Homo sapiens: one gene and its partner. The protein of the gene in region 2 binds, or shares a complex with, the protein of the main gene of each other region. Each region holds a gene or a part of one and is shown on either strand. Other genes may lie near its edges.

Region 1 (16,768 bases), on a different chromosome or scaffold from region 2:
CATGAGCCCAGGAATTCAAGACCAGCCTGGGCAACATGGCGAAACCCCATCTCTACTAAAAATATAAAAAATTAGCCAGTAGTGGTGGTGCACTCCTGTAGTCCCAGCTACTCGGGAGGCTGAGGTGGGAGGATTGCTTGAGTCCGGGAGTGGGAGGTTGCAGTGAGCTGAGATCATACCACTGCACTCCAGCCTGGGCGACAGAGACGCCATCTCAAAAAATAAAAAATAAATAAAAAATAAAAAAAGAACAGAGGCCAGTAAACTTTTCCATCAAGGCACAAATAGTAAATATTTCAGGCTCTGTGGGCCACATGGTCACAGCTCTACTGCAGTCCTAGCAAGAAAGGAGCCACAGACAATACATAAAGAAATGGCAGTGGCTGCATTCCAATAAAACGTCATTATGGATACTGACATTTGAATTTCAAGTAATTTTTACACAAGTCACAAAATACTACTTTTCTTTGTGTTTTTTCCAATCATTAAAATATAAAAACTATTCTTACTTCACAGGCCATAAGAAAACAGGCAGTGGTCCCACGGGCTGTAGTTTGCTGATGATCCCTGAACTAGAAAATAAAATAGATAAAGCACTCAGGAACAAATTGAACAAGAAATATGCAAACCTCCATGAGGAAATTTAAACATTTTTGAAGTCACAAAAGTTAACTTGAATAAAAAGGTATACCATGTCTTTGGTTAGAGAGATTCAACATCCTGAAGATGCAAATTCTTCCACAATTAATTTTAAAATGTATTATGAGGCCGGAAATGGTGGCTCACGCATGTAATCCCAGCACTTCGGGAGGCCGAGGCAGGTGGATCACCTGAGTTCAGGAGTTTGAGACCAGCCTAGCCAACATGGCAAAATCCCATCTCTACTAAAAATATAAAAAATTAGCCAGGCATGGTGGCAGGTGCCTGTAATCCCAGCTACTCGGGAGGCAGAGGCAGGAGAATTGCTGGAACCTGGGAGGCGGAGGTTGCAGTGAGCCAAGATCGCACCACTGCACTCCAGTATGGGTGACACAGTGAGACTCTGTCTTAAATAAATAAATAAATAAAGTATTATGATCCAAATTAAAGTAGCAAGAGATCATTTTTTTCTGGAATCACACAGCTGACTCTGAAGTGGATATGACAAGATAAATAAGCAAGATTAGGTCTGGAAAATTCAGAAAAAGAAGAACAAAAAGGAAGCAGCTGTACTAGAATGTAAAACACTGTACACATCAGCAACTAAGCCAGTGTGGTATCAGCACACGAATGGACAGACAGAACACATCCAGAAATATTAATACATCCAAATGAACCCAGGACTTACTGTGTGATGAAGGTGGCATATCAAATCAGGGTGCTAAAGATGAAGTTTTTAATAAATGGTACTGGGCCCTAAAGACAAACAGATCCAAACCTCATAGTACGCATCAGGATAAAAAGCACTGCAAGAAAATCAAACATTAAATATAAGAAATGAAACCATATAAGTTAAAATGGGAGGAGCCAGATGGTGCACAGTGGCTAATGCCTGTAATCCCAGCACTTTAGGAGGCTGAGGTGGGAGGATCACTTGAGCCCCGCCTAAGTCAAGGCTACAATGAGCTGTGATCACACATTGTCCCTGTCCAGGCTGGGTGACAGAGTGAGACCCTGTCTCAAAATAAAATAAAATAAAATAAAATGGAGAAAGCCATTCTAAAACTAATTTAAAATCCAGAACCATTAAAAAGAAAAAACTCATGAATTCAAATATATAAAAATAATTTGCTTATGATTTTTTTGTTATGCAAAGATCAAAGGAAAAAGACAAACTGGAAAAACAACATGATTGTAACATCACAAAGATTAATTTCCATAATCTATCAAATAAATTCTAAAGAAAATTCTGAAATGTTCTAGAAATTCTAAAGAAAAAGACCAACAACCCAATTTGGAAAATGGGCAAAGGATGTGAACTGAGAGGTCACAGAAAAATACCAATAGCCCCTCAACCTGGGGAAAGACCTACACTGTTGGTGAGGCCATGAGAAACAGGCACCCCCATACACAGCTGGTGGGAGAACAGAACATAAAGCCTGAGGAAGGGGAATTTGATAGGAACTACCCAAATTACTGAAGCCGTTACCTTTGACAGGACCCACTTCTGGGAATCCTGATTGGAAACAAGTGGAGTGTACATCCACTCTAGAGACTACAGGAAAGAAAGAACAAGAGTGATCTCTACATGGAGTATGGTGTGAGCAGCAGGATATATTAAGTGAAAAAAGGCCAGGCACGGTGTCTCAGGCCTGTAATCCCAGCACTTTGGGAGGCTGAGGTGGGTGGATCACCTGAGGGCAGGAGTTCGAGGCCGGCCTGGCCAACATGGTGAACCCCTGTCTCTACTAAAAATACAAAAAAAAATGAGCCGAGCATGGTGGTACATACCTGTAATCCCAGCTACTCGGGAGGCTGAGGCACAAGAATTGCTTGAACCCAGGAGGCAGAAGTTGCAGTGAGCTGAGATCGCGCCACTGCACTCCAGCCTGGGTGACAGAGTGAGACAATGTCTCAAAAAAAAAAAAAAAAATGTGTAAAAAGCAAGGTGTATGCTACTTTTGTGTAAGGAAGAGAAATAAGACTACAGATAGATAGATAGAGACATAGATAGATGATAGAGATATAGACAGATGCTAGAGATATAGATAATAGAGATATAGACAGAGAAATAGATGATAGAGATAGATAGAGATATAGATAGATGACAGAGATATAGATAGATGATAGAGATATAGATGATATAGATAGATGATAGATAGAGATAGATAGATAGATAGAGACTAGACATTTTCTTTTTACTGTTTTGGGTGTTTTTGAGACCAGGGTTTTTGCTGTGTCACCCAGGCTGGAGTGCAGTGGCTATTCACAGGCAAGATTGTCGCACATCACAGCTTCCAACTCCTGAGCTCCAGTGATCCTCCCACCTCAGCTTCCCAAGTAGCTGGGACTACAGGTGCATGCCAACATACCCAGCTAATTTTTATTTTTGGTAGAGATGGGAGTCTTGCTATATTGCTCAGGTTGGCCCTCAAGTGATACTCCTGCCCCAGCCTCCCAAAGTGCTAGGATTACAGGTATGAGCCGCCAAACTCAGCTCTAAGATAATAGGTTTTAATTCTTTTTTTTGAGACAGGGTCTTGCCCAGCCACCCAATGGCACAATCATGGCTCACTGCAACCTCAATCTCCTGGGCTCAAGCAATCCTCCTGCCTTGGCCTCCCAAAGTGCTGGAATTATAGGCATAAGCCACAGCACCCAGCCACTATATATTTTAATTTGCTTGTATTTGCATCAGGAAATACTAAAAGCAAGAAACTAATAAAAATGGTTACCTATAGATTGGGAGCAAGGGGGATAAGGACAAGAGTGGGAAGGAGAATTTTGTGTCATTTTGACATTTTAACCATTTAAAATTGTCTAATTTTCTTTTAATGAGTTCACTTATTTAACAAACTTTAATTGAGCAATGCCCCAGGCACTCATGAATACCTGGGTGTCAAGGAGTGGATGCAGACAGAGAATGTGACAGTAGGCCAGGTGCAGTGGCTCATACCTATAATCCCAGCATGTTGGGAGGCCAAGATGGGCGGATCATTTGAGGTCAGGAGTTTGAAACCAGCCTGGCCAACATGGTGAAACCCCATCTCTACTAAAAATACAAAAAAAAATTAGCCGGGCGTGGTGGTGGGTGCCTGTAATCCCAGCTACTCAGGAGGCTGAGGCAGAAGAATTGCTTGAGCCCAGGAGGCGGAGGGTGCAGTAAGCAGAGACCGCGCCACTGCACTCCAGCCTAGGCAACAGAGCAAGACTCTGTCTCCAAAAAAAAAAAAGAGAGAATGTGACAGTATGCTCATAAATATGTATACTTCTACATATTAAAAATATATCTCTGAATATCTGCTTTGGTGCAATGGAAAATAATTCAGTTACATGATTAAGAAACCAAATCTAATTAGTAATTGAAAGTGCATGTGTATGAGAAAGAGAGATGGAAGAATTAGAGACCCTATTCGAGATGCAAGTGCGTTCTCAGAGATGGCAGTTGCTGTCTTCAAGGGAACCGAGCCCCTCTGTGGGGGACAACCACTGCACTCAACATAAAATGTCATTTCAGAGACACCATGTTTGAAATAGAACTACCTCCTCCCACAACCCTTCTTTCTTTCTTGCTTTATTTAGGATCATTGAACTTATCACCATCTTACATATATTTTTACTTATCTTGTTTGTCTGTCTTCATTAACTACCCCAGGGCCATACTCATAAGAAATCCCTTAATAAACATCTGTGGATGAACAAATGAGCAGATCGCTGCCTGGATTGATTGATGGCTCTTTCTGAGATGTTTGACTCCAGAACGCTGGTTTTGTTGTCTCAGAAATCTCGATGCATAAATCCCTGTGGCTGCTGCTGTTGCAAGAACGTATGCAAAGTTGGTCATCGCGGTTGATCCAATCGAAGTTATGTGCGTTGCTGGCGTAGCACACATACTGAAATTAATCACCACTGGAAATGTCTTTAGGAGGACTATACTGACTCCACAGTGAGACAAAAAGTTAGCATGTCCTTCCAAAAGTCAAGGAAACAGAGCAGGAAGGAGTAACTTTGACATTAGAAGAGCATGTATTTGTCATTGTGGGGATGACTGAAATTCCACATTTTCTTGCCAAGCCAAAACTAAGAGCTCTGCAGAGCTTAAGAGAGGAAAATACCCACAAAATTCCTCTGAAGAAATGAAAATGTCAAGCCAGGAGAGGCTGTTGTGACCAGTCCATGCATTGTGCAGGCACGTGTCCTGTTTCAGTGGGTGGCTTATTTCCTTACTTTACATAAAATAATGGTGTATGTTACCATCTTAGATGACTGGGAATATAGCATGTGGTTTGCCTGCCAGATAAGGTTCCATTCTCACCTCCAACCACATCCCTAGGTGCAAGGATGTCTATTTCACATTACCTAATAATTCGACAAAGAACACTTAAAAGTTTAATGACTTGTTTTTTTCTTTCCAGAGGGCGCTGATTTTAAATGTCTCCATCTCAAACTGCTTGAACCGAGCCAGTAATAGTCACAAGTCAAAATACTATGAGATCACTTAGTAGGGGACTGGTTAAATTAATTATGGTTCATCTATATACTGAAAGACTATGAAGCTGCTAAGGTGACTAGAGCACTTTCTAGGTACTGATTTGGAATATCACAAAACTCCAGTAAATGGGGAAGGAAAAAAAAGACCAGGTGCATCCATCTCAATGGGTTCAGTGTGAACTCACTATGAAAAGGGGAGTGGGATAGGCTGGGCACATTGGCTTACACCTGTAATCCCAGCACTTTGGGAGGCCAAGGCTGGTGGATCACCTGAGATCAGGAGTTCGAGACCAGCCTGACCAACATGGTGAAACCTGTCTCTACTAAAAAGACAAAAATTAGCCGGGTGTGGTGGTGGGCGCCTGTAGTCACAGGTACTCGGGAGGCTGAGGCAGGAGAATCGCTTGGACCCCGGAGGCGGAGGTTGCAGTGAGCCGAGATCATGCACTCCGGCCTGGGCAACAAGAACGAAACTCCATCTCAAAAAAAAAAAAAAAAAAAAAAAAAAAAAAAACAAGAAAGAAAAGAGGAGTAGGGGAGAGGTAGTGATGGCCACCTTGTGCTTGCCAGAGTATGCAGTTATCTCTAGAAAGGTACAGCACATTTCTTTTCTTTTTTCTTTTTTTTTTTTTTATGGTGAGACGGAGTCTTGCTGTCACCCAGGCTGAAGGATACAGGACATTTCTGCAAAATGCTTTTTTTTCTTTTGAGACAGGGTCTCACTCTGTCACCCAGACTGAAGTACAGTGGCGTGATCTCAGCTCACTGCAACCTCCACCTCCTGGGTTCAAGTGATTCTTTGTGCCTCAGCCTCATGAGCAGCTGGGATTACAGGCACACACCACCATTCCTAGCTCATGTTTTTGTATTTTTAGTAGAGATAAGGTTTCACCATGTTGGCCAGGCTGGTCTTGAACTCCTGACCTCAAATGATCCACCCACTTTGGCCTCTCAAAGTGATGTGATTACAGGCATTAGCCACCACTTCCGGCCTGCAAAATGCTGTTTTTTTGAACTCATTTGTAGGTAGGGCTTACTATCTACCAGTTAGTAATTGAAAGTGCATAAGTATGTTTTTTTCTAGTAGTTAACGATTGATCCTTTTCTAACGGTTAATCCTCTTAACAGCCCTGTGAGGTAAGGGCCTCATCCCCCTTTTCTACAGATGCACAGAGATCACACAGCCAGAAAATGGCAGAGCTGGGATGAAAACCCAGGGAATCTGGCTCCTAGTCCTGGAGCATTCTGCCCCACTGTTAAGACTGGCCTGGGGCATGGGGGAGAGGGGTGTAACCAAGGGATCTGGAAGCAAGGGTAGGTGGATGGAAATAGTATATACTATTTTGTTCTATTTGAATTTTTGTCAGGTGTAAACATTACCTATTTTTAAATAATTTTTAAATTTTATTTTTAAAATAGATAATGCATTCAAAATGTCTAGCTGGAAAATCATGGGTGATCCATTTAGAAGGATCAGGTGAAAACAGATGGTGAAATACATGGAATGTGAAACCAAGAGCTTGGGTTTGTTGTGAATGATGAGGAAGCTTTTTGATGTTCTGAATGTGGGCAACTAACTGGAAGTGGCTCTGAGAATCTTCAGCCACCAGGCATGGCTTCCTCTCTGCGGTTCACCTCCTCAGGGTCACCCTCCCCCTAATTCTACAAGTCCTCCAAGACTAGCCAGCACCTAAGCATAATGGATAACAACCACTGGGCTTTGGAGGCAGAGCCACTGATTCTCATTCTGACCCTCCACTTTTAAAGGGTCCCTGGGCAAGTTGCCTTTCTTCACCTTATCTCATCCATAAAATGGGCATAAGATTAAGCACCTCACAGGGTTGATAGTATGGTTAAATTAGGTAATACGTGATATGTGCTAAGGATAATGTCATGCATAAAGTAAGTGTTCAATTAGTGCTTATTATTATCCTAGCATTGACCAGGATTGAAATCTCAACTTTGATTCCAAAAAAACTGTTGTCTTCCCCAGGGACAACCAGTATCTTCCCCTCTTCCCTTCATGTTTCTCCTTTCTCCCTTAAAAGAAACATCAGGTGCTGGACCAGATGTAGTTTATACCCATAGTCACTTAATGTTTCCAACAATCCTACCAGGTAGATATAACTATACCCATTTTCCAGATGAGAAAACTAGGCTCAAAGAAATATTGTAACTTACACAAAATGCCTCAGCTGGGAATGGTGAAGTTGTGACTTAACCCATATCGTGCAACTCCCATGCCACTCTCCTCTGCCCATTACACCATGCTACCTGATGGTCCTGCTCACCTAAGGCCAAGCAGAACCTGCCTCAACTGAGAAGCCTTCCCAGACTGCCACAGCTGCACCAATATGGTTCTCCTGTGCACCTATGCAAGTCACACACCAATTTGTTAAAATCTTGCATTGCTTATTTTCTTCAGGGTGATTGAATTCCTCAAATATGAAATTGGACTAAATCTACTCTTTTTAGCCCCCCAAATACACAATTCATGAAAGTTGCTACCTAACAACAGACATGCTTTTCTCCATCTGTATGTTTTGTCTACCTCTTCTTAACTCCCTTTGTTGGGATAAGTGAAATCTGATAGTCATCATTTCATGAAATTCCAAATGAATACTCAAAACACCTGGAAATCTTTCTGTGCTGTTGTTTTTTAGAGGGAACTTATGAAATATACTGGAAAATATTCCCTACCTCCTATATCTGGATACACTTCTAATATTCAAAACACCACCATCATAATGATCCCAAGACACTGCAAATTCTATTGCAGTTTGAATCACCCAATATTGAGATATATTTAGTTTATGCTAAATCCCTGACTTTAAAATAACTGACATATTTGGCGAGCTGCTGGATCTTAACACACTTCCACCTTCAGTCTTTACTTGCACTGCCAAAGCTGTGGGAGAGGCATTTTCGACAAACCCACAGTGGAAACTGACCCACATATTTCAATAGAAATGTTACAATTGCTACATTTAACCACAGTAATACACTCAACATTAAGGCCTAAACAGCTTCTTGTATAATAGCCTCAAAGTTAGCCACATTTTAAATAATTTACATGAGAAACTGTATTCTGAATTCCAATCAAGTAACGTTTTCAGGTTGAAAGTGGGAAACTGCATGCATTCTTAAATACACATGGGAATTGTTAGTCACCAACTAAGCTTACCCTTCCACTCTGTAGCATTGCATGAAATGCAAAGAAAAACAGTTATCATCCAAAATGAAGACAGAATACTGAACCCATATTTATCTTTCAAATTCTCAGCGATTATAGGCAGCATCAAAAGTCTCACAAGCCTACTCAACTGCAAAAATTTCTTGCTGCAAGTATTACTGAATATCAAGTCCCATTATACCATGTCTAAAGCAGGACTTGGGTAATTTAATGATATATCCTCCTGTAGCAGCACCTATCCCCTGTAAGAGGCGGGTGTGCTATTGTGCTTTCTATAGGCAGGGGGTAGCTGGTCTCATTCACGGAAATTTCCTTTGTTAAGATGCTCACTTTCTGGTGATACCATCCAACTGCCCACTGATTTCCTGGCAAGGGCATTCAACAGAATGTACTGCTCCCAATCCCACAAACCTAGTAGCAAAGTTGCAGGGGTGACCTTAGCACACTTGAAGTGGGCAAAGTAGACACAGAATCGGTAAAACATAGGAATCTAAAGTGGGCTGTGGACCTACCACTTGCTTTCAATTTTGTTATCACTTGTCAAGCATGGGGCTAGCCTGTGAGGTTACAAAGATGAGTAAAACAGTGGAGATGGCAGACTAGTATACAGGGAATTGCTGGCATTTTGGAATATTCATTACTTTTAGTTATGGGAAGAAAAACTCTGAAAATGTACAAACAAAACCTAAAGATGACAAACTACTGCTAAAGTTTAAACTTAAAACGTTCTGAAGAATAAAAGGGAATTGCATACTCTTCATTTTAAATAGGGAAGAGTTCACGCAGTTTATTCCTAGCCAGTGGAAAAATCAGTCTTCCCATCATTAGCCCTGAACTACGTACTAGTTATACTATTTAGTAAACAAAATTAAGTGGGGGTAAGAGATCAAATATGAGAAGCTGAAAACTAAGACATTCTTAAGGTTAGAAACACACCGACTAGTACTCTCCTTAGTTCAGAGCCACAGATCTTACCCTCTACTGTAGCTACTGTGCGATAATATGCCTAGAGGGCCAGTCATGGTGGCTCATGTCTGTAATCCCAGCACTGTGGGAGGCTGAGGCGGGCAGATCACCTGATGTCAGGAGTTCAAGACCACCCTGGCCAACACTGTGAAACCCCATCTCTACGAAAAACATATATATACAAAAATGAGACGGGCATGGTGGTGCATGCCTGTAGTCCTAGCTACTCAGGAGGCTGAGGCAGGAGAATTGTTTGAACCCGGGAGGCAGAGGTTCCAGTGAGCCGAGACCGAGATCATACCACTGCACTCCAGCCTGGGCAACGGAGGAAGATTCCGTCCCAAAAACAAAAACAAAAAGAAGCATAGGAAAGGAGACCCACAGTTGAAAACAGAACCCTCCTCTCCACTTCAGGTAATTCTACACTTCTTACCATGTAGTTGCCTGAAGGTGGGATTTCAAAAATGATTTTTTTTATTTTTAAAGACGGACTCTCGATCTGTCGCCCAGGCTGGAGTGCAGTGGTGTGATCTCGGCTCACTGCAACCTCTGCCTCCCAGGTTCAAGCAATTCTCCTGCCTCAGCCTCCTGAGTAGCCGGGATTACAGGTGCCCACCACCACACCTGGCTAATTTTTGTTATTTTTAGTAGAGACGGGGTTTCATCATGTTGGCCAGGCTGGTCTCGAACTTCTGGCCTCAAGAGATCTACCTGCCTTGGCCTCAAGTGCTGGGATTACAGGCGTGAGCCACTGCGCCCAGCCTTTAAAATGATTAACACAAATATTGTAAATATATACATGTAAGCTAGTGCCAAATTATACCAGTGGAGACTTATTTAAATCTGGATTTTGTTGACAATCAGCATGACTTGCCTGGCAAAGAACCACAACTGTCAAGTCCTGCTGGAACACTTTGTCACCATGTAAGAAACAGGGCTGTAACAAAGTCACACATTGAGTTTCCTCAGTTAAGGATTTGAGGTGGGTGGTGGCGCAGGGTCGGGGGGGGTTGGGGGGGTTGGGGGGGAGTCGGAGTGGCAGCAGGGCAAATAAACCATTATGGCACATAAAATAATTACACACATAGAAATATTCTAATTTATATTTTATTGCATTATGAAAATAATACATTTGGCAAAGTAATCTAGGCTCCAAGTTGAAATAAAAGAAAATCCTGAAGAGTGTACTGATTTTTAAAATGTGAAATAGTAAGATGTAGTCTAACCAATACATACTAGCACTCTTATTAGGCCAAAACCCAGCAAACCTAATTTTTATAATTCCATATGAAATTACAAGGTGTTTTGCATTCATTCATTTTATGATTAGCACAAATCTTGAGAACTGACCCTCACCTTCATCAAAACCAATGTTAAATTCCTGTTCAGAAGACAATTTGAAACACTACCGAAAATTTTTAATTCCTTTGGTTTTGTAAGTTGCATTTTCATCCTTACCATGTTACATTTTTTTCATAATCAAACATTGTAGCAGCTTTAGATTCTGCCCAAGTACCTTTAAGTAAACTAGTATATTACATTTACATTATTTGAAAAGTTGATTTTACAAATGCAAAAATGCATAAATACATGCCTATCTACACCGGCAAAACAAAATACTCTGAATCTCAATGCTTTAACAAGCCACACCTTCTGGCCGAGGATTTCTGGGATGCCTTTCCAAGCCACAGGGCCTGGCTGGCAATTCCACTACTCCAAAACACACGTCTGAAAGGTGTAGTTACAATAAACCCTAAGCAGGTTAAATTTATCTAATAATCAACATTTAAAATATGACATTTTCACTACTTCTGCTACATTTTTCAGAACTGAAAATATATTTTTCAAAAATGTACAAGGATATTTTCACTTTTTAAAAGGGAAAAGTGCTAGAAACATAATACATATATATATATATATCTCACTTTCCTCATCACCATCTTCAAATTTTTTTTACATGTTGGGTTATAGTCTAGAGAACAGGTAAGCAATCTGCTCAAGGTCAGAAACAAAATATCTTTAATCACTGAGGTCTCCATTCTTCATTTAGATCTTTTAACAGGACTTTGCTTGATATATGTTAAGAAATATGCCTAAAATCACTTCTGTTCAGAAGTGAATCAGTTACTATTAGAACTGACATTTTCATTAAGCAAAGTCTGTGTTAAGTGCACCTATGAATACCTGCGGAAATTTACTTCCAAATGGCCATCAATATCTAAAACCAGCTGAACAAGGTTTCCCAATTTAACTACAGAAGTATTCCACCTACCCTAAAGATATTCCATGAGCATTCTACAATTATCTGTATAAACAGCAACAAGTTTGATCTATGATCAACATATGAATATCTAATAAATATTAAAACTATTAAACTATAGATTAAAATGCAGATCTCTCATAGAGTTAAGTGATGTCATTTTGGTACATTCACCATTATTGTACTTTATTTAATAAAGAAATACATTTGCCCTTGCAAATATAGCAATTGCAAGTTTACAAATAAAACCACAGACCTCAAAGTCATAATGCTAAATCTTCAACTTACAACCAACAAAAGTAAATCAATTTGTTTACAAATGGTCCATGGCACTACAATTAAAATAAAAAATATCAAAAGGTCACAGGATCTTAGGTAAGTTTACTGACAATTTCATAAATATTCAAAAGAAAATTTCAAAATTTGTAAACTTAAATTTGCCTCATTTTAACATTTTTGAAAAATTTTTTAAAAATTTACAATGGTTAATTTTTCTCCCCTCTTGGGTATAGTAAATCAATATTCAGATTTTATTTCAACTATTAGACATAGTCATAAATATATCATCTAGCTGTTGTGAACCTGACAGTCAAGTCAGTCAGTAGTATATTATCCTACAAACATAAATGGATCCAAATCGTTTTGGTATTTATAGCCATGATGATTTAAGTAGTCAAAACGCAAAACTTGTGGTTGCCCCCCAAATCACCCAAAAGCATATTATACAGTGTCAGAAACTGTTTGCATCAGTTTTAGAAGCTCATCTGTGTAGTTCAGGTATCTGAAACTAAAAAAGGGGGGATTCTTTCATATTTTGATAAAAATGTAGTCAAATATTTCATAACATTAATATTTATTGCTTTATATGAATACTGTATTGAAAGCCCAAGCATTCAGTTTACACACAGAAATTATACAATTATATACCGCTTCACAAAGGCAGTGAACACATTACATTCTACAAAATCTACTTTACAGAAATTTAAAAACTTTAAATATCAAAAGGTACAGCTGAAGAAACAGGTATAAATTTGGCAGCCAGTAATTTTGACAGGGAAGTTACAGCTTGCATGACTTTAAATATGTAAATTTGAAAATACTGAATTTCGAGTAATCATTGTGCTTTGTGTTGATCTGAAAAATATAACACTGGCTGTCGAAGAAGCATGTTCAAAAATATTTAATTCACTTCAAAATGTCATACAAATTATGGTGGTTTCTATGCACCCCTAAAGCTTCAGTCATTTAGCTCAGGTACATACTAAAGTAATATATTAATTCTTCCAGTACAGTGGTGTTTCATACCATTGACATTTGCATACCCTAGAATAATTTAGAAAGACATGTGTAATATTCACAATGTTCAGAAAAGCAAGCAAAAGGTCAAGGAACCTACTTGGTTCTTCTGAGATGGTCTCATATCAGCTTCATAAACATTCATTCTACAAAATAGTAAGCTAACATTTGAACACAATTTCCAAGATAAAGCATATTTTCTCATAAATAATGAAGTCTTTTTCTCAGGCACCTCAGAAGTATACAAAAGAATTTGAGTTTGAACAGATCTCTTGGAATGTGTTTAACCTGGTATTTCAACAGACTTAAGATTTCCAGGGTTTCACAAGGGCCAGATTTTATTTCAATTACTCAGAAGAGAAAGAAAATGTCTTCTGAAAGAGGTGAACTCAATCATTACCAATAGAAAAAGTATCCACTGTATTCATCTCTTATAGAAACAGAAAAATATAACATTTCCCCCCTTAGAATTATATATATATATATATATATATGTATGTATATATGACTTAAAGTTCCATTGTACGTAGCCAAACAATAAAATCTGGAAACCAGCATGAAACCCTATAATTCACATGTTAAAATGTTGAAACTATGACCAAAATATGAAAACTGCTAGAGCTATCAGAAAGAGACAAGACAAAAAGCTTCTTGCATATGTATAAACTAAATGTGATAATCTCAAAAAACTTTTCAAAATTGTAATTACTTTCCAGTTTAAAAACTTCAATCCTAAATTAAAAAAAAAAAAAAATCTATACACAAACCACTGATTTGCCCAGACCAAAAAAAGAAAGAAAGAAAAGTCAGCGGTAAGGTAAGCAGGACCCAGAGGAGCTGATATTCACAGTTCTTACATGTACAACTCTTTCAGGAATTATCCATAAAGTACTTTATTTTACAACCTGCTTCTCTTGTAAAACTAAAGGTCCATTTTATTACACAAAAGTTTTATACAGTGTTAAAACCAGAACTGTATGTAAAATACTGCATCTAAATGTTTCTAAATAGTTAGTCTTGTTCCATTGGTTCATCGGTGACTTCTGTGGCTTCGTCATCATTTTCCATGGATGATTCTGAAAGAATCTCTCCAGTTTTACTGGAATTGGATCCTACTAATTCTTCTGTTTCACGGCAGTCAGAAGAACTACTACTTACAGGGCCTTCGTTTTCACTACCTTCAGAATGTAGCAAATCTTTCTCAGCTTGAGACACATCAGATTCCTCCATTTGATTATTTTCCTCAGAAGTCTCTTCATTCACAGTTAAGGCATCATCAGATTCTTTTTCTTGATTTTTTCTTTCTGGGATCATTTCTCTTGATGTCATAAAAGACTCTAAAAATAAGCAAATGTTGTTGTAGTTAAATTGTATTTTCAAAATACCTCCACAGTTAAGTTTCATGAATTCTGATATTCTATAGTTCAAATCACATCCCCTGAAATTCAGCAGCAACTACATACAGGTGGGAGAAAAGCCCAACATCAGCATTATAAGGAGTTCCATTACGTAAAATTCTTTCACGAAAAAAATGAAGTACAAGAATTTGAGGATCTCCTTACTCCACCCTTTTACAGATGGTCTCTAAATACCTTCTTCTTCCTCTTCATCCTCTTCTTCATCCTCTTCTGTACAGTGCTGCCGGGTACAACGGCTATCTTTGTCTTTATCCTGAGATGAAGATGATGCTTCTGTTTCTCCTACCATAACTGAAGAAATTTCGCTGGAAGTCGTTTGACTGGCTGTTTCTCTGACTTCACCTTCTTTGTCAAACCTGAGTCTTTTTACCTCATGCCCCTCAGCTTCCACAGCATCTTCATCTGGATGTTTATTTTTCAAAGGGCTCACTGAGGAAACTTCTGATTCAGAGGTCGAAGAGTCACTGTAAATGTTTTTTTAAAGTGTCATTAATAAGATTATTTTCCCCATCTTCTACATCCCCATTTTTAAGGTTAAATAATGTTTTAAATTGTATTTCAGTGTCAAAGTTAAATTATAACACCTGAACAAAGAAAAACACAAGAGAATAATTTCAAGGTAAACTAAACTGTTTGATGAATAATTCCCAGTAGGACTCAGAAAAGCTATATGACCTTTCTGTGCAATTCTCCAGTAAGTTAAATATTCTCCTACAATAAACCCGCAAGTCTTCCATACGGACATACTCTCTTAAGTCCTCTCCCTCATTTAGTCTTCCTTCCCTTAATGTGATACAGAAAATTTGAAGATATAAACAAAAGGTGTCCTTTTATGAACTACAATGAGAAACGACTCACAAAAATCAACTTATTTATAAAGATCATTTCTTTTCAAGTAACTTTCAGAAACAACAAATGAAATGGATCATCATATCTACGTTACTTTTAGACCCTACATAAACAGTCTCCACAAATTAGCAGTTTTAAGTCTTGTCTATGTCCACCTTCAACATTTGCTACAGCTGCAAAGAGAAGCCAGTGCTCCTATAAACCGCATGAAAACCTTGTTCTGTCCCTCAGAACTTATAAATAGTAAGTGATAAGTACTGATTAAATGTTAACTTTAACTTTTAATAAAAACACTGTTTTTAAATATAAAACATACAAACCTGTGATTTTTCTCCTCATTTTGCTGCAAATTTGCCTCTTTGCTGTCTGTGCTCTCAGGCAACCCATTTGTTGTCATGGGGGCTGACAAAGAAACCTTTGGTCGATTAAGTGGCCTGGGTGTCCCAGGCCCATTTATATTAGACCTATAATAAGATAAATGAACATCATTTCCTATTTTTATAAAAAGTCATCCCTCTTAAGGTATGTTGATGTGAATACATCACAGAAGTATTTGCTGCAACTTTGTTTTCAGGCCCATGCCTTACCAAATTAACTAATTCTATGTAGTTCATCCTATGGTGTCCATAAAATGCCCAATTTTTAAAAAGTACACTAAGCCTGCTACTCAAAATCAGGACAATGCAAACTCTGTAGGTATTAAAAATCTAGAATCTCACCTCTCAGTATAGCTTGGTGAATTTCCAGGAAACATAACACCATTCATTCGATTTAAACTATTGGAATTGTTTTTCCTATAAGAAAAGAAAATACACTTGTGGATGACTTAATTTTTTTTTAGATGGAGTCTGGCTCTGTCACCCAAGGTGGAATGGAGTGCAGTGGTGCAATCTCAGCTCACTGCAACCTCCACTTCCCAGGTTCAAGCAATTCTTATGCCTCAGCCTCCCAAGTAGCTGGGATGACAGACGTGTGATGCCATGCGCAGCTATTTTTTTTATTTTTAGTAGAGACGGGGTTTTGCCATGTTGGCCAGGCTAGCCTCAAACTCATGACCTCAAGTGATCGGCCCACCTCGGCCTCCCAAAGTGCTGGGATTACAGGCGTTAAGCCACCACACCTGGACTTTTTTTTTTTTTTTTTTTTTTAAATAATGAGAATTAGTTCATGTTAGGAGTGCATGGATCTATGATTCCACCCAACACTCCCCCCTCAAGATCTTACGGGGTAGATGCCATTTGAAGCAAAGGGAGTGTGATGGTTGATCCTGGTATAACATCAGGAGCTTTAAATCCCAAAAATGTGGGGTTGCTCATCTTGGCCCAGTAGTTTGCCGCTGTTGCTAAGTTTGGGAACATTCGTGGTGACAGCTCCCCAATAATGGGGTGGCAAAGTACACCCCCAAACTCAAAATATTTCCCCAATGCCTTTTTAACCATTGTTTTTTTTCTCCTCAAAGACTGGGATCTCAGACACAATGGCCCGTAGAGCAATGGAGCCATCCATGCACTGATCTAGAAACATTCTCACAGCATTAATAGGTTGTCATCTGTGCTTTCTTGGCAACTAACTTGACTTGCGTAGCTTGTGTAGAGGGGATTCAAAGTCTCCAAATAGAAGTGTGAACATTAATTCTCCAACCCATGGTCTTGAGCT
Region 2 (7,000 bases):
AGCAAAGGAAACTTTTCTTATTCTCTTTTACACACATCTCATACCATGCTACAGCTTAAGCCCATTTTATCATTTCATTTATTACTAAAATTACATTAGCTTATAATATGTTCTATGTATTGAATTTCATCACTTTTACTTCTTAGATGGCTCTTCTTTAAAAAATTAATCAATTATTTGAGTACATCTGCTTAGGTCATAAGTATCTGACATACTGGTGATTTTTAAGTCTCAATTCTAAATGCTCTCCAAATTTCTCACAGTTTTCTTAAATTTCAGAAATGAATCACTTCTTTATTATCTAGAAATACTAAATAAAATGCTATAACAGGCTTATGAGTATTATTATTACTATTATCATTACATTTCGGTGCCATATCTACTATTTTTGTTAAATGACATTCATTCAACACACTGTATTTCTTACAGAACAAGCCTTGTAACTAAGTAGAAGTAGAAATATGAATAATAAATGGTCTCTGATTTTGAGAAATGTAAACCAGCAAAAAAGCCAAACACAAAAAATATAAGACAATGTGATCACTGTCTTAATAGCTGGTATAAGGCAGGGATCTATAAACTTTTTTTGTAAATATTCTAGGCTTTGCAGGCTCTGTCTCAACTACTCAGCTCTGTTCTTGCATCACAAAAACAGCCACAGACAATATGTGAACAAATAAGTGTGGCTCTGTCCCAATAAACTTTATTCACAAAAACAGGCGGTGGGCCAGATTTGGTCTAAGGGCCATAGTTTGCCAACCCCTGGTGTAAAGGATTTAGAAAGATGTCAGGGAGGAAACTGTATTTAAACTGGGAACTAAAGAAGCAGAAGGATCATTCTCAGCAAACTATTGCAAGGACAAAAAAACCAAACACCGCAAGTTCTCACTCATAGGTGGGAATTGAACAATGAGAACACTTGGACACAGGGTGGGGAACATCGAACACCGGGGCCTGTCGTGGGGTGGGGGGAGGGGGGAGGGATAGCATTAGGAGATATACCTAATGTAAATGACGAGTTAATGGGTGCAGCACACCAACATGGCACATGTATACATATGTAACAAACCTGCACGTCGTGCCCATGTACCCTAGAACTTAAACTATAATAATAAAAAAAAAAAAGAAGCAGAAGGAGTTGGCTAGGACAAAAATAGAGGGAAGGAAACAATAGAGAAAGAAAAAGTATGAGAGAAGACTAGAGGTGTGAAAGAATCTGGTATGCTAAGGAAGTGGGACTGGAGCATCAGACACAAGAGGAGTGGGAAAGAATGGTAGGAAATAAAGCCACAAACACAGGTTAGGCCCAGCTCTGTGATAAATGGGTGTGGGCAGTAAAAGAGAAAAGATCAAAGATGATGGCAAGGTTCTAGTTTGGAGCCTGGGGATGCCCCATTATTAGAGGAAAAAAGATTTATTCATTCACTTATCATGTACTGCAGTTTTACTCCTCTGGTTTGTCATATTGTCTAAATGACTGTTCTGGAATTTCCAAACACAATTATTGTCCATATTGCAATAATCTTTAAGAGGCTTCCTAGAGTTCAGATAAAATGTTGGTAATCCAAGTAAATGTAATACTATAATTATACGATTGAATTCTGTACCTAAGTACTTGACATTTACTCCTCCAAATTTCTCTTTATCAAAATAGTTAATGTTTACTGATAACTAATATCCAGCATTAGTCAAGAGTCTAGCCATACATTCAGTAGAGCAGTTAACTGTCTTTGTGACATGATTTACATAACACTAAGGAATATCTCTTTACCCTCTCCCACTCAAATACCCCATCCCAAATTTCTCCCCCAATGGCCATGAGATCTCTAGCATTAAAATATTATTAAGGAGAGGAAACTCATGTAGACAATGTCTCAGGATCTGTCTTAATGTCAATTAGGTGAAAAAGTTAAAGTCAAATTCTTAGCCCTATACACACACAAGTCAGTTAAGTTTTGATGGGAGAAAAGAGAGATGGAATATGTAGCAACACTGTATGCCATAGGGTACTGGTTTTAATATGGTTTGTCTCCATCAAAATGCCTGTCAAGGCTTGGCCCCAGTGCAGCAATACTGGAAGGTGAAATCTTTAAGAGGTGGGGCCGCATGGGTCCACCCACTGGCTCCACCCTCGTGGGTTGACTGGTGAAGTTCCTGTGGTATTGAGATCTCCTTCACAAGTGACTGGGTTAGCTCTCGTGGGACTGGGTTAGTTCTCTGGAGAGCAGGTTGTTACAAAGTCAGCTTCTTTTGTTCCCTCTCCCTTTTGCAGGCCTGCTTCACCTTCCACTTCTCTGCCAGATTACGAGGTGGCATGAGGCCCTCATCAGAAACAGGTCAGATGGGGCTGCCTGATCTTGAACTTCCCAGCCTCTAGAAATGTGGGCCAAAATAAATTCCTTTATAAATTACCTGGTCTCAGGTATTCTGTTACAGCAACACAAAATGGACTACGACACCATGAGGGTAAAAGTGAAAGCCAAGAAGACACGAAAACAGAATGAATCATAAAAAGAGGGAGAGGAAGGGAGGCTTAACATAGGAAATTCTAAATCTACTTTTATTCCTTATTAGTGACATAAAACATGTAGAAAAACACTGTTTTCAGAAGCAAAGATGTAGCCACATGATTTACCTGTATCAAATATATCAAGCAGATTAACCAAAGTTTCAAAAGCTGCAAGTCGTACACTGCTGCCTTCATCCCTAGAAAGTTCTATTAATTCAGGGAGCACCACACTTTTTGTAAGTTCTGTCCTGCACAATAAGCAATAGAAGAAAATAAATCAAATCAATAAATGTGTAGCAGGAACTTACTAAAAACCAGTGACTGGGCTAGTTGCTGCAGAAAATATGAAAAATCATAAAGATACTGTTCCTGCTCTCCAGAAGCTTTCAGTCTTATTGGGAAAGCACACCATACATATAAGAAACATTAATAGTAATTTCATAATGATTTCAATCAATCCCACTTCCTCCAGCATAATATTGTTACCTACAGAAATCTTAATAACTAAGAGTTTATATCAAACTTTATAAATTATAATATAGTTTTCCATTTTAAGCAACTTCAGCAAAAATCTGGACTAATTAGAAAAACTTATCAGTAGTAACTGCAGAAACCTAAATAATATATTTCTATCTAGATTTCAGGGTATAAATTATTTTCCATTCACCTAATACATGAAATTATGGTAACTAATTTCTATATAGAAGATGATATATCACTCTAGGTGTCCTACCTAGCAGAATGAAACATAATATAAATACTTTTAGGGAGTATACAATATTTATAATACAATCACAAATAGTTTGTATTCAACATTTTGTTTCTGCTTATTCCTCATGATAAGGTGTCACTGTAATGACAAACACTCTGATCAAGGAGAGCCTTGTGATGTGGTTAGCTTTCTTGGGTACAAGATGGAAAACAGCATCAATTATAATTGACATAAGATGTTGATAGAGTCCAAGAAAGTTATTAAGAGTTGTAGAAAACTTTTAAAAATTTCAGCGCAAATCTCAAAGACTCTAAGACAATGCTGTCAAGTAGAACTTTCTCCAATGATGGAAATGTTTATCATTTGTACTCTTCAGTAGGGTACTATTGAGCATTTTTTAAAATAAGTTTATTATGAATGAGGAACTAAAGCTCTAATTTTCTTTAATTTTCCTTATTTTAAACTAAAATAGCCACATGTGACTAGGGGCTACCATATTAGGCAGCATACCACAATGACAAGGACTTAAGCAATTGAAGAGCCACAAAAAAACATGTTTTTCTAAGAGATTGATCTAGATCATACAGATAGAGATGTTAACATTACCAGTACTTCACAAACATTCAGCAAATACAGGATATAGACAGAGGAGGTAGAAGAGTAAAATGTGATAGAACAAATCCAAAGTTCATAAAAATTTATTTCATATAAATTTTGCTCAGAATATATTTGTATACCTACTGAAATCCTTGAATTTATTAACAATGAAAGAAAATAGTTTAAGAAAAATAATTTCATCTCTATAGTAAAAGTTATTTCCATTCAATCTTTAAACAGAGTTCTCTTTTTTTCAAAAACATGTGACAGTGATGCAAATTCAACTTAATTATCTCTGGGCATTAAAAAAGAAAATAATCATAACAGATAACTCTTTCATTAATTGTGTTAAACTTCCAACACGACACTTAAATACTATTTAGCAACAGTGGACACAGGACAGAGTACACTACCATACCCTGTGTGACATTCCACCATACCCTGTGTGACACTCTACCATACCCTGTGTGACATTCAAAAGCCTTTTCGGAGCCTTAAATATTGGCCCAGATTTTTAAAAAATTAACAAAGGTACCAATGACCACAATCTGATTGTCCTAGCTTGTGCAACAAAGAACCAGATGAAATCAGTGCAACTTCTGCTAAAAATGAGAGGTTCCAATGATTTTTGTACCAATTTTGAATCTTGTTTTTAAAAGAAAAGATTTCCCAAGATGGTTTTTAGGTAAGACTCCCTTTAATATCACACTTCTAAGATTGAAATGAGATCAGTTCTTATGGGTGAAGAGATTGGCTGCTATGCCTCTCCTGGAGCTTCAGGCACCCATAGAACAAGGGGAGCAACAGCTGGGCGCGGTGGCTCACACCTGTAATCCCAGCACTTTGGGAGGCCGAGGCAGGCGGATCACGAGGTCAGGAGATCGAGACCATCCTGGCTAACACGGTGAAACCCCGTCTCTACTAAAAATACAAAAAATTAGCCGGGCGTGGTGGTGGGCACCTGTAGTCCCAGCTACTTGGGAGGCTGAGGCAGGAGAATGGCATGAACCTGGGAGGCGGAGCTTGCAGTGAGCCGAGATCGCGCCACTGCACTCCAGCCTGGGTGACAGAGTGAGACTCCCTCTCAAAAAAAAAAAAAAAAAAAAAAAAAAAAAGAACAAGGAGAGCAACAAAACAAACATTGGAAGCCTGAAGTTGCACAGGAGCTATAGAAAGGCTTCCATTAGAGTGTAGTCGGCCCTCAACATCTGCAGGTTCCACATCTGTGGATTTAACCAACCATGAATAGAAAATATTCAGAAAAAAATTTCTTCTTTACTGAACATGTACAGACTTTTTTCTTGTCAATATTTCCTGAACAATACAGCATAACTATTTACATAGCATTTATATTGTATTAGGTACTATTAGCATCTAGAGATGATTTTAAACATGTGGAAGGATATAAGCAAGTCATATGGAAATACTACACTCTTTTATATCAGAGACTTGAGCATCCTCAGATTTTGGTATCCAAAAGAGGTCCTGGAACCAAGTTCCCAAGGATATGGAGGGACAACTGCAATCCCATCTGAAATGACCCAATAATATAGTCAAAGAATAGCCAGTCAAACATATTCCAAGTATGGTTTATATTGGGCTATCTTTTCTTTCCTGAATCTAGGTGTCTGGAATGATAACTAAGCAACTAAGGTGAGAAAAAAAGAAATTAACATTAATCAAACGCCTACCACCATGCTAAGCACATTCCTCTTTATCTCTTTTAATCCAGACATAGAGGAGGTACTTGTTATGATCATTTTTAAAGATCAAATACAGCCTTTCAATGGCATGTTTTCATGGAAATGGCATAAGGAATTCAAAGTATACCTACCCAATGCCCTGGGCTATATTTTCTAATTGCCGACACATACAAGATCGAACTTCATATTCTACATCTTGACAGAGTGATTTTACCAGAGGAAGTATTTCTCGCTTAATGCTGAAGGTGGGGAGAAAAGAAACATGCAAATGAATGAGTGTTTCAGAATAATATTCCCAAACAATTATCATTAAAATCTTAACTCACCTTAATAATAACAAATGTACTTTAATAGAAAAAAAATAATAGTTTACAAGGTATTTTACATGTTATTAAATTTGGATGTTATTAGCTACTTGTAAATTATGTATATCACACAGTCTTTTTAAAATAATGGTTAATTTTGGATTGGCAGTTGAAATGTCTATAGCTAAGATAAAAGGCTGTAGCAGTAGAATATCTGAGTCTAGCAACCATCAACCAAAATACTCTTCAGCTTTACTCTTGTATCATAATTATAAAACATTCCATTCTTTTCATTTGGTATTTAATAAGCAGGCAAGAAGTAGCACATGAATTATAAACATGCTCCATAAAACCTCACAATAAGTTAAATTATTCAAAATAACAAATTCATAACAACAGTGTAAAAAAGCAGCAATTCTATCTTTATGCCGCTGCCAATTTTGAAAGTCAATAAGATAACGCTATTTTATCCTCAAAACTATATTTGGTATGAGATAGGGAAGATTAAGATAGGAAGTAGGAAAAAAGTTAACCTTACCAATTCTGAAAAGTTATGAGATTGAAAAGAAAGGCATCTGAATAAGTAAATTCGTCATGAGAATTCCATAAAGTTAAAATAGTTAAGATAACTAAATTTGTATGCAGTATGAAATAACACAAATATATTGTTACACAGTCATTATACATTTTAAACGAATGTAATAAAGTAGACCGAAAATTACATACAAATACTCACGTGTGGGCATCAAATTTGTTGGTCAATTTTCCTAAAATTTTACAACTAACTAAACGAGACTGGACTGTTTGGGAAAGTTGTGCCTTGGAAACAAGTGGATTCAAAATCTAAAGAGAAAATTTAGAGAAAAAAATTCACAAAATTTTATACATTCATGCCACTCATGTCAGCTATTCCTTCAGAGTATTTTAAAGTTCTAAATGTTTTTAAAGAACCTGAATTACGATTTGAGGTTCATGACTCAATAACTTGGATTATCTTATTTGTCTTCTGAGTTATTAAGGTAAAGATAATTACAAATTATGCAATTAAAACAATTAGGAAAAAACTGAAGTAAAGTTTATGGTGATTTTACAATGCTCTGTATGCACAGATAAAAGTAGAATTTTGAAATACATATTTTAAAAAGAAAAGAGCAAATAATGACTAAATACCTTG

What was found.
Region 1: PPP4R4 (region 2) and PPP4R2 share a complex: the UniProt entries of both Homo sapiens proteins name them as parts of the PP4 complex.

The regions. Positions count from the first base shown.
Region 1 is NC_000003.12:73,062,811-73,079,578, reverse strand, and holds the end of PPP4R2 (serine/threonine-protein phosphatase 4 regulatory subunit 2), read right to left. Parts: coding exon of another isoform or gene 16,679-16,768; exon of another isoform or gene 16,242-16,678; intron 15,907-16,241; coding exon 15,832-15,906; intron 15,577-15,831; coding exon 15,433-15,576; intron 14,728-15,432; coding exon 14,438-14,727; intron 14,183-14,437; coding exon 13,857-14,182; 3' UTR 10,381-13,856; downstream 1-10,380. Other genes in the region: EBLN2 (endogenous Bornavirus-like nucleoprotein 2), read right to left, coding at 16,679-16,768. UniProt on the Homo sapiens protein: Regulatory subunit of serine/threonine-protein phosphatase 4 (PP4). May regulate the activity of PPP4C at centrosomal microtubule organizing centers.
Region 2 is NC_000014.9:94,233,322-94,240,321, reverse strand, and holds part of PPP4R4 (serine/threonine-protein phosphatase 4 regulatory subunit 4), read right to left. Parts: intron 6,670-7,000; coding exon 6,563-6,669; intron 5,761-6,562; coding exon 5,653-5,760; intron 2,758-5,652; coding exon 2,636-2,757; intron 1-2,635. UniProt on the Homo sapiens protein: Putative regulatory subunit of serine/threonine-protein phosphatase 4.